Homo sapiens: one gene and its partners. The protein of the gene in region 2 purifies or fractionates together with the protein of the main gene of each other region. This does not show direct contact. Each region holds a gene or a part of one and is shown on either strand. Other genes may lie near its edges. The genes, in order: SPATA7, BNIP3L and VANGL2.

Region 1 (3,654 bases), on a different chromosome or scaffold from region 2:
ACATTTCATATATATTCCACAGTTTATTCAACCAAACATTTACCATTAAACATTTAGGTTGATTCTGGTTTTTGGTACAATTATAAAAATGCTGTAATAAACAGTCTTATAATCTTGAGAAAAACATAAAATTTTAAGCATAAATACATATGATTTTGTATGTGTACTTTTTTTCTTGTGGTGGCAAAAACTAACCAAACTTATCATCTTAACCATTTTTAAGTGCACGATTCAGCAGTGTTAGGTATATTCATATTGTGATACAGATTGCCAAAACTTTTCATTATGTATCCTGAAACTCTTTACCCATATTATGCAAATATTATTAACCAACTTTTTAAAATGAAAGGGGTCAACAGAATTAATGCCAAAAATCTTAGGTCTTTTTGATATGCCTTTTTATACCAATAATGAAAATGTTTGCTTTAATTTTTTAAAAAACTTGATGTAGAGGATAGAAATAATTTATTAAAAATGTCTATGCTTGGCATATTATTATGACAGAGAAAGCAAGTAGTATACATAATAGGGTCCTAGGTTACATAACACAAAGTAGAGCTCAGTGCTCAATGAATCTTAGATACATAAATGTTCAAGCAAAATTCAGGACACACAGTTTCCTTAAGCTATGCAATAGCTAATCTGGTTTTGCAAACTTTCCATTTAACTTACAGCGTGCAAACCTAGCTCTTAATTTGTTCTCATTTTACTAGATCTAATACTAATAATGGTTGCACCAAAAATGCTTGCTTTTGATTCTCATGACAATTTTAGGTAGTAAAATGGGATTATGGAGCTTTGCAAATAAGTGATAAAGATCTTCCTTCACTAGTCACTTATAACTCAAGGGATATAATATTAAAATGAATAAAAGCTCTATTCTTTAATTCTCCCAAGTGGTGAACTTCCCCTAGAGTATGAATTAAACATTCTTTACAACTTGCTATCAATTATAATAATAAGTTTCCAAGAAAGCAATATATTTTTTCATTTCCTAATATGGGAAAATAACTTTAAAATTTTAACATCATATGAAGAAATATGAAGAATATTTAATGTACTCCTGAATTAACATAACACCATTAAAAAAACTAACCTGTTTGAAAATAAACCAAGTTTCAAAATTTCATCTGTTACATCTTCAATGAAACTCAGATACAACAGTTCTTCTTCACTGTAAAAGGAAGGCAATATATAGCATAAAAATTATTCCTTACTTATTCTGAAAACTGTAAGAAACATTAGTACCTAATTAGAAATATCTATCTCTACCATTACCAATGTACTTCTATCTCATATTACTAAGGGGAATATTACAAAACAAACATGTCTACCTTCTCAAATTATGCAAGGATAAATATTTACTAAAGGTGATGACCTAATAGAGTAAAATTTCACAGATATCTGCAACATCCATAGCAGTAAAAAACAAGCAGAATTAAACAACACAAAAAGAAAGCAACGAAGGACAAGGCGCAATCAAATGCAATCCACTGGGAGCAAGCACTCCCGAGGAATGTTTTAAATTTCCTCTTGCTCCTGACCAGGTCCAGCAGCAGAGGTGCAAGTCCCTCTGCAAAGCATTTGCAAGAAGGAAGAGGAAAGTTGTCCAGAGAAGCAGGAGCTTCAACTAAGAAGTCCTCTCCTAGCCCTAGGCCAGCATCTTGTTTTAAGGTTGAGAAATTTACTAAGCAGAAAAATTTATTTTTTCTCTCAAAACGTTTGGAGACGAAAAATTCTCATAGGAAAATTTGTGAACATAAATCTTGTGGTAATTTTTAACTACTTGAACACACTTCTCTATTATAACTATATTTTAGTAGCTATTACAAGAAAATTAGGATATTATTGTACGTTTGATTTTAATTAGCTGAAATTAGTGAATTAATACCAAATGTAAGTAGCAAGTAACTAAATTACTGAATAAGCAAATATAAGGGAAGAGTTAATAAGCAAATCAAATAATAGATTTAAATGTTTAATAAAAAGTTACACTTTCAAACTGATTCACAGGGTCTTGCTTATTTAAAAACAGCATATTTGAAAATAAATAAAATTTTATAAATTATTTTCCCTAAAAAGAGTAACTTAATTAAAACAACATTAAAATCTACAAATAAAATATCTGCAAAGAACTGCTGAGGTTAGAAACCTCTGGAAAGAGTATCCTGAACTATTAAAAGTCTGCATTTCTCTAAAACTCTTCTTTATTATTTTATTATTTTTACTTAAAAAATAAGTAAGAATCATGGATACTGATTATTAAAAAGTATCAGGTAATACCTGGGGACAAATTTCTACTGGAGATAAAAATGACGTGATTGATAATTATTCCAGAAAGTTGTTATTATTTCTCAAAAAAATTCGAGAAAATTATTCAGGTCAGTTTCTCAAATTTAGTATGTATTATACGATTGATATCCCAAAGCTGGTTGTAAGAGAGATTAGTGTTCACAGATGAATGGATAAAGAAAATGTATATATACACCATGAAATACTATTCAGCCATAAAAACAAATAAAATCATGTCATTTGTGGCAACATGGATGGAACATGGATGGATGCTGGTGAAATAAGCCAGCAACAGAAAGTTAAACATCGCATGTTCTCACTCATATGTGGAAGCTAAAAACAGTTGATTTCATAGAAGTAGAAAGTAGAACAGAAGGTACTGGAGGCTGGGAAGGGTAGACGGGAATGAGGGACAAGCTGAGATTTGTTACAAGATACAAAATTATAGCTAGATAGGAGGAGTAAGTTCTAGTGTTCTATACCACTATAGGATGACTACCATGGTTAACAATAATACATAGTTTCAAATAGCTAGAAGAAGGATACTCAATGTTTCCAACACAAAGAAATGATAAAATGTTCGAGATGATGGATATGCTAATTAAACTGTTCTAATCACTGTACAGTATATGTATCAAAATATCACTAGGTACTCCATGAATATGTACATTTATTACTTGCCAGTTTTAAAAAAAGAGATTATTGTTCAATCCTGACTTATTTAATATGGTTTCTTTGATTCTTAATCCTTGATTCCACTATGCAAAACGAAGACTTAAAAAAGATCTTACTCAGAGTAGATTTTACGAGTTGAAGGGGGCTTCAGGGAATACTGACACATTGCCCTAGAAAGAGGAAGTTAAAGTAGTTGAGCAAAACAGTGGTTGGCATACAATAAGTACTCAATAACATTGTATATTAGTACACACTGAATAGCCCTTATCTTAGATGTTTGGAACCAGAAGTGTTTCAGAATTTGGATTTTGGAATATTTCCATTATATACTTAGTAGTTGAGCATCTCAATCCAAAAATCTGAAATCCAAAAATGTTCCAATGAGCATTTCCTTTGGGCATCATGTCGGATTTTGGAGTATGGTGAATTACAGATTTTCAAATTTGGGATGCTCAACCTGTAATTACATGTTTCAGCAATTTTTAAAGCACTCTCATACCCATATCTAATTTAATCTTCTAAACAACCCAGTCAGGCATGTGGGCTGTGTATTATTTTTCCCATTTACTGATTAGTTCACCAAGGGTCAGAAAGGCTAAGTAACTTTCCAAGGTTAATGTTAGTAAGCAGCAAAGACAGGTTTTTAAACTACTTTTCTAGGTATAAATTCACAATTCTTTTTAAAAC
Region 2 (3,441 bases):
TGACTGTCTAAAATTTACATCTTAAATCACCTCCTGGTTTAAAAGAAGTAAACCCAGCTAACTATATGATGAAGTGTGACCCCTGGGAGGGCACACACATTTCAATTAGGTTCAGTACTAACCTACATTTTTCAGTTTCCTCTGTATCCATCCTGTTTTCCAGGCACGTGGAACTTCCAGTTCCTTCTGGATCCACTTTCACTGGTGTCCCACTGTCATTTCCATCAGGGCACACTCTTCTTCTCTCCTGTACTTCCTGAGCACTCCTCCCGTGAGCGCCCTCCTGCCACTACCTGGAGGCAAATGCTCTGAATGCCACAGTCCCGAGGCACTCACGAATGCTCACACTGCGGTGACTGTCCCCACAGAACACCGTTCACACCCTGAGCACTGTTAGGAACTCCACTGCTGGGGAAGCCAGATGACTGGAAGGCTGTGTGTAGGCGAGGAGGCCTCATCGCCTGAAACTCCCAGGCAACAGGTGCGACAGAAAAATGATATACTGACAGGAAAAGTTTTGTGAGAGCTTTAATGGCACAAAATGTTTATAGCTACAAGTTATACATGTATTGTAAACTGTATATAACGATACAAAGTGCTAACTAAAATAGATGAAGAATGCATAATCACTTTGGCTCAGTTAATTCCAATAATTTCCACAACGGGTTCATGAAAAAACTTATCTGACTGGCTAAGTCTTCAATTCTCATTTTTTTAGAATAGTAAATATTTTTACTGCAATCACGGGAACTTGTTGCACTTTCCAATGTGCAAGTTTGTGCAGTTTTGCTCTTGATTCTATTTACAAACATCTTGAGCCAGTTTTCATCAAACATATGAAAAATGAAGCCTGCCTTTTTGTCCCCAAATTGTAAACAGGTGTAAAGCTTTTTAAACATTAACCTCACAATTTCAACTATTAATTGTTGAATTCTCCTTTCCAAACCACAATGTTTTCGTTCAACACAAATCTGGGTGTAGCAGTAAAACGTTCATCCCATGTGTTAGGGCTACAGATACATACTACATGCTCTCATAATAAATTCTACTGTGATGATGTATTCACGTTTTAAGTAATTTTCCATAATTTCACTGATGCTTTAAGAAAAAGGGCAACACTATGTTTCTTTTTAACGCTGAAAGAAATCATAAATATACCCAGTTTCAGTGGCACCACTGATAGAACTGCTGCTGAACTTGGAAAGAGCACAATGCACTAGCTGTAAGAAGTCACTTTCAGGTAAAGTGTAATTTTACTTTTCCCCCCTGTAATACCAATTGTAATAGAAATTGCATACTGTAGCAGTTTAGCTAGTCAGTTCTCCTAACTTTCCAGTCTTTCCAATTTTATTCAGGCTTTTCAAAAATCAGTGAGCCATCAGATTTACTTTCTTCCCAAAGAAATTCAAATATGAACACTTGAAATAAATAGGTTATAGAAGGCAAATCAAGTGTTACCAGGTTTAAGAGTAAGACAGAAACATGGTCTAGGAAAAAGATGTCCAAAATTATTTAGACATCAAATGCTAGAAAGAAAAAAGAAAATTACTTTCAAAACTAGGATATATCATCTTTCTTAAAGATAGCCAGCTATATTCTTGAAAAAAGATAAAAATTTTGTTTAATCTATATGTTATTTTCCACTATAACACATCAATTTTACAAATGTTGATGTGAGAAAAGAGTTAGTTTCTGCAAACTGGCAAACCTGTCTGTCATAGTGTTTTTATTCAAGTTGACCTGGTGCACTTTATAGATTGCTAGTTTTAAAATTAACAACGGTTCTCTAAATAGTCAATATCAATGTCTATATCATAAACAGTAATTATTTATATATAAAACATGTGGTATCCTTCAGAGTCATGCTAGATGTTCTGAAATCCAAGAAAATCTACTCGAGATAACTGGTCATCCTGATGCTTTCTAACAATTTGGTCCTAAAGCTTCACATTTTAGAAATGAACGAACAAGTATATCACTGAAGGAATCTGTTGAGTGTTCTGAACTTTAAGAGTTTACCATAACTGAAAAGACAGCTACATGAGAAAATGACCAGTGCCTGCAGTCGCAGGAATCACCTTGGGAAGACTGTACAGTAAACATTATTCAGTGAGAGATCAGAAGGAAACAAATGGCATCTTTTCAGAACGCTGTCAACTGTTCCCACAACCCAAGTCTGTTTTTCCAAGTTGCACAAGTGCTTGGAATAACTCTGAAACAATTCTCTTCAGAGTTTAAAGGCTTCAGAGTATAGGTGATGCTTCCTAAAACAAGAAGCCTGTATTAACATCACAAATTGGAACTCATTCCAAAGCCTCTTCTTAGAGAAAAAAAAATAAAGAAATAAAAAATAAAAAATGTAAAGAAGGTCATGAAAAATTCACATGCAGCTAATTATCGTAAAAAATATCAAACACACACGCAAAAATCTCAAAAAGCAATTTCATATATTTCTAAGCCTGAGACGTTCCTTATCAGAAAGAAAGATTCTACACCATAGAAAAGACAGCATTACAACATACTAGTATGAAAATCTGCTGATGTATTTTACTTCTTATTCTATTTCATACCTATCATTTATACAGTTTGCCTCCTATAAATTAAAAGACGCTATTAGGAGGCTTAGACAAAAAAGTGGCTCCAAAGCTGGTTTAAAATATTTTTTTTATTGCCCAGGATATTTTTTTGTTGTGCCTTGCCTTTTTTTTTTGTTTTGTTTTCTTTTTAATAACTATCAACTCAAACTTAGGGAAACTTGCCTTTGTCTTGGGGGAAAAAAAACAACTAGACAATAAAGCTTCTTTTACATCATTTGCTAACCTGATCTCGTTTTAAGAGAGAGATGGTAGTTATGTTGCAAGAGTAAAATTTATACCATGAATGATACAGGTCTAGTCTGGTGGCACTAATTAGAGATAATAGCATTGCTGACAAAATTATAATCTGCTGGTGGCATTTGCGGAAAAGAAGCCCTTGCAAATTTCTAAACAACAGTAAACTCTGTTAGGAAATTCTAAAATGTCTTCAGGCCAAAAAGGGTATAAGGTTAGTAAAATGCCTCAACAGAGTTTGAATAAAATATTGAATTTGAGAGTTACTGGAATTGGATATGTAAAAACAGGGTGGTAGGTTGGGTCATGCTTACAATGGTCTCAAGTTCAAATAAGCTACTGTGACAATACACCACTTCACAGGTCACACGCATTTCCAGGGGCTTTTCCTTTCCCTCAGTAGGTGCTGGCAGAGGGTGTGCTCAGTCGCTTTCCAATATAGATGCTGAAAGGAAGCAGAAGCATCATGTTTCACCTGTTTCAACAGTTCTATACCAGCTTGTCCACAGGTTGAACTCTACTTAAAACTCTTCAGTCTTTGTAAAAGGCTCTAAAGGTTTGTGGGTACCGCTCCCCAAACACCGTGAAATCATCACTGACTTTCTTAAAA
Region 3 (3,654 bases), on a different chromosome or scaffold from region 2:
CAGGGACCCACCTGGCCCTCCTCTTGCGCACCCTTCGCTCATGCTCAGCCTCCTCATAGTAGTACTCATTGTGACTGTTGTCCCGCCTCCGAGCTGCCGCTGCAATCACAGCCCGAGACTGGCCAGTGGAGTTGTTGGTGCTGTTTTCTGCACAGGAACAGGATAGAGGAGATGGTCACATCAGAGTGTGGCCTCTCTTCCCACTCCAGGAGCTCTGGAGACAGCAGCCTGACATGTCCAGAAGAAGCTGTTCCCACCACCCAGCAATACCTCCTAATCCCAACCCTCCTGGCCACCTCTGGGAGAGGCCATAGGAAAGCAACAAGGAAGGCACTGGAAGCGCAAGAGTCCTGCAGTTGTTCCTCCCCAGTGCAGGGGGTTCTGCAGCTCCGAGAGCCAAAGGGCTTAGACCAGGGCTGATGAGAGACACAGAGGAGCCAGATCAGGGGACATGCCATAGCATAAAGGGACAGCAAGTAGGATGAGCAGCTAAGATCAGCCACCTGGAGTCAAGGGAAATGACTGAATAGAAGCGGCTAGAACATGGGCTAAGGAAAGGAAAAAGCAAGGGACAAAGGGTAAAAGAGAGGCGGGAACTTGGAGTCCTGCTTGGGAAGAGACAGGGAAGGGCAGAGGAGCAGGGCTGCTCACCCTCTCCGAGGGAATACACCTTGAAGCCAGACACTTTCTTGGCCAGGACGGACTTGGGCAGGTTGAGGAGGGCAGGGTTGTAGACAGGGAAGTCATGGTAATACTTCTCCAGGATCCACACTGCCACGCGCTGGATGCTGTGGGGGAGACGGCAGGAGGGGGTGGGAGAAGGGACAGACCAAGGGGCACAGGGGAAAGGGACACATTAGGGCAGGTTGGCAGGGCAGGAGAGGACACAGGACAGGGACAAGCTGCTTCCGAGAAGCCTGACTCCGGGCCTGAGGTCTACTTACCAGGCTCCCAAGCCTTTCCCAGGGCTGGGCCTGCCAGTCCCTCCCCACCATGCCAAAGCCTAGCAGAGAAAGGGCATTGGGCCTGGGTCCCCAGCCAAAGATCACCTCATCCCCATTCAGCGTTCCCCCAAGATCCTCTACAGGACCCAGGACGTGCCACTGATATTCTGTGTGGCCTCGAGGGGTAGCTTGTTTACTGGGAGCTGAAGAACTCTCCTCCTTATCTCTTTCTCTGGGGATCCCTCCTCTGGCCAGGTCACTTCACAGGCCACTCTGAGTGCTCACAAGAAGCTGCGCCTCCCAGAAAGGACTAGAAAAGGGATTCCAAAAAGCCCCTGTTTGTGCACCCCCCCATATTTCTTCCCTTTGGTCCATCCCCCTCTAATATTCCCTACCTCTAAATGCCTATTCATTCCCATCTCATAACTCCCAACTGATCTTGCCCCAAGACCGTGTACATGAACCTGCCTATCAAGCAGCAAACATTGGTGAAAACCTACTTGGTGCAAAGTACTCAACTCCCTCCCACACAACCCTCCAAGCCCATCACCTCCAGCCCACCATCATACCCTCCCACCCTAGCAGTCACTCCACATCCTCCCATGCCCTTTCCCTCCCAACCCTTCTCCAGCCGTGGGCTAGTACCTGAGATGGCCAACGTTGTAGAAGCGGCTGGCGCCGTCGGTGGAGCGCACGACCTTGAGCGTGAACTGAGGCTGGAGCTGGCGCAGCTCCAGCAGGACCACGGCCAGGTAGTGCACGAAAAGAAGGGCGTCCACCAGCGACACGGCGAACTGCACCACGCCCTGGTAGCTGCGCTCCCGAGCATCCAGGATGCGCACACCATAGAAGAGCCAGTAGGAGACCACGAGCAGGAAAACCAGCACCATAAGCAGGGCACGCAGCACAAAGACGCGGGGCAGCGAGGCCTTGGGCCGGCGGAAGAACAGAGCCCAGCTGCCCAGTAGCAGGATGAGCAGCTTGAAGGCGACAGAGATGAAGAGGCCCTCGCAGGCCGTCCCGCAAGGCTCCAGCTCCTCCCGCCACAGCAGTGGGGGCAGCAGCAGGAAGGCCAGAGGCGTGAGGAAAGACAGCAGTGCCAGGGTGGCCCCCGCTGCCACACCCAGGTGACGGGAGCAGTCCAGAGGGACACTGTCCTCCATGTCCTTGGCGATGCGTGTGAGGTCATCATGGGAGATGCTGTGCTCTGAGGTGCCCGTTACTACTGTCGTCGTTTCCCCCCAGTTGTCATCCTACAGGCAGAAGGGGGCCAGCCACACAATAAGGAGGAAAGGATAAGAAGAGGAAGAGGAGGGAAACAGGAGAAAGGGTGAGGGGACAGGAGACAGAGAAGAACACATGGGAAAGGAGAAGGCAGAAAGAAGAGAGGGTAATCAACAAATACGCAACCATCAAAGTATTTACTGAGCTCCAATGTGTGTCAAAGTCTGGCCTCTGCAGATGGCCAAATCCAAGACCCGAGCCCTCGGGGAGCTGGACACTGGTCAGTGAGAGAGGAAAAAACCACACATGCGGCAATGACCCTCAGAGCAGACAGCACAGGACAAATGCTGAAGATGCTGCTCAGGCAGTGACTGGGATCCAAGGGCAAACTCGCCAAGCAAAGCAGGCAGGCTTCCAGAAACCGTGGGACCTGAGCTGATCCTTGGGGGAAGGGGGCTCCAAGGAAGATGTTCTCAATCCCAGATGCACACATTAGAACACTTAGGGAAGTTGGAAAATAATGCTAATTATTGGAGAGTGCAATCTGCTTGTGAACCTTTAAAAAAAAAAAACAAAAAACTCCCCAGATGATTGTAATGGTCATCCAAGATTGAGAATCACTGAACTAAATGATTTCTAAGGGCTGGCTGGCTACTTAAAATGTGATCTGTGGACCAGCGGTGTGGACATCACCTGGGAGCTTGTTAGAAAGGCGGAACCTCAGGCCCACCGCATGTTTACTGAACCAAATCTGCATTTTAACAAGATCCACATGAATCACTCAAACATTAACATTAATTCTGGAAGTCCTGCTGGGCACGGTGGCTCACGCCTGTAATCCCAGCACTTTGGGAGGCCGAGGTGGGCAGATCGCCTGAGGTCGGGAGTTCGAGACCAGCCTGACCAACATGGAGAAATCCCATCTCTACTAAAAACACACACACACAAAAAATTAGCTGGGTGTGGTGGCACATGCCTGTAATCCCAGCTACTCGGGAGGCTGATGCAGGAGAATCGCTTGAACCCAGGAGGAGGAGGTTGTGGTGAGCAGAGATCGTGCCATTGCACTCCAGCCTGGGCAACAAGAGCGAAACTCCATCTCAAAAAAAAAAAAAAAAAAAATTATGGAAGTCCTATCTAAGTTCCTTCCAGCATGCCATGATTTTGGCAGAAGCTAGAGGAGGAGCCTCCAGGGCAGGAATGGCATGAACTGAGGCACCCAAGGGCTATGAGAGCAGAGGATCCCTGTGCAGAAGCACAGCAAGGTGCAACCAGGAAGGTAAGGCAGACAGCAGCCAGGCAGGGCTTGTGCAGGCCACGCTGCAGTGCTGGGCTGGGCAATAAGCACCTGTTCTCCAGGCATGGAGAGCCACTGAAGGAGTAAACCTGATCAAAGCAGCACAGAGAAGAACAGAAGACCCCAGGGGTAAAGGGGTGAAGGCGTGAAGGACACTGTGCAGACTCAAGGCCACTCTGGGTCTCTGGT

What was found.
Region 1: the proteins of BNIP3L (region 2) and SPATA7 purify together in Homo sapiens (affinity purification with mass spectrometry; one large-scale study listed by BioGRID and IntAct). This does not show direct contact.
Region 3: the proteins of BNIP3L (region 2) and VANGL2 purify together in Homo sapiens (affinity purification with western blotting, with the first as the bait; one study listed by BioGRID). This does not show direct contact.

What each region holds. Positions count from the first base shown.
Region 1 is NC_000014.9:88,430,655-88,434,308, reverse strand, and holds part of SPATA7 (spermatogenesis-associated protein 7), read right to left. Parts: intron 3,138-3,654; coding exon 3,084-3,137; intron 1,175-3,083; coding exon 1,097-1,174; intron 1-1,096. UniProt on the Homo sapiens protein: Involved in the maintenance of both rod and cone photoreceptor cells.
Region 2 is NC_000008.11:26,410,199-26,413,639, reverse strand, and holds the end of BNIP3L (BCL2/adenovirus E1B 19 kDa protein-interacting protein 3-like), read right to left. Parts: intron 3,277-3,441; coding exon 3,228-3,276; 3' UTR 513-3,227; downstream 1-512.
Region 3 is NC_000001.11:160,417,545-160,421,198, reverse strand, and holds part of VANGL2 (vang-like protein 2), read right to left. Parts: intron 2,198-3,654; coding exon 1,590-2,197; intron 1,255-1,589; coding exon of another isoform or gene 1,206-1,254; exon of another isoform or gene 801-1,205; intron 789-800; coding exon 652-788; intron 148-651; coding exon 12-147; intron 1-11. UniProt on the Homo sapiens protein: Involved in the control of early morphogenesis and patterning of both axial midline structures and the development of neural plate. Plays a role in the regulation of planar cell polarity, particularly in the orientation of stereociliary bundles in the cochlea.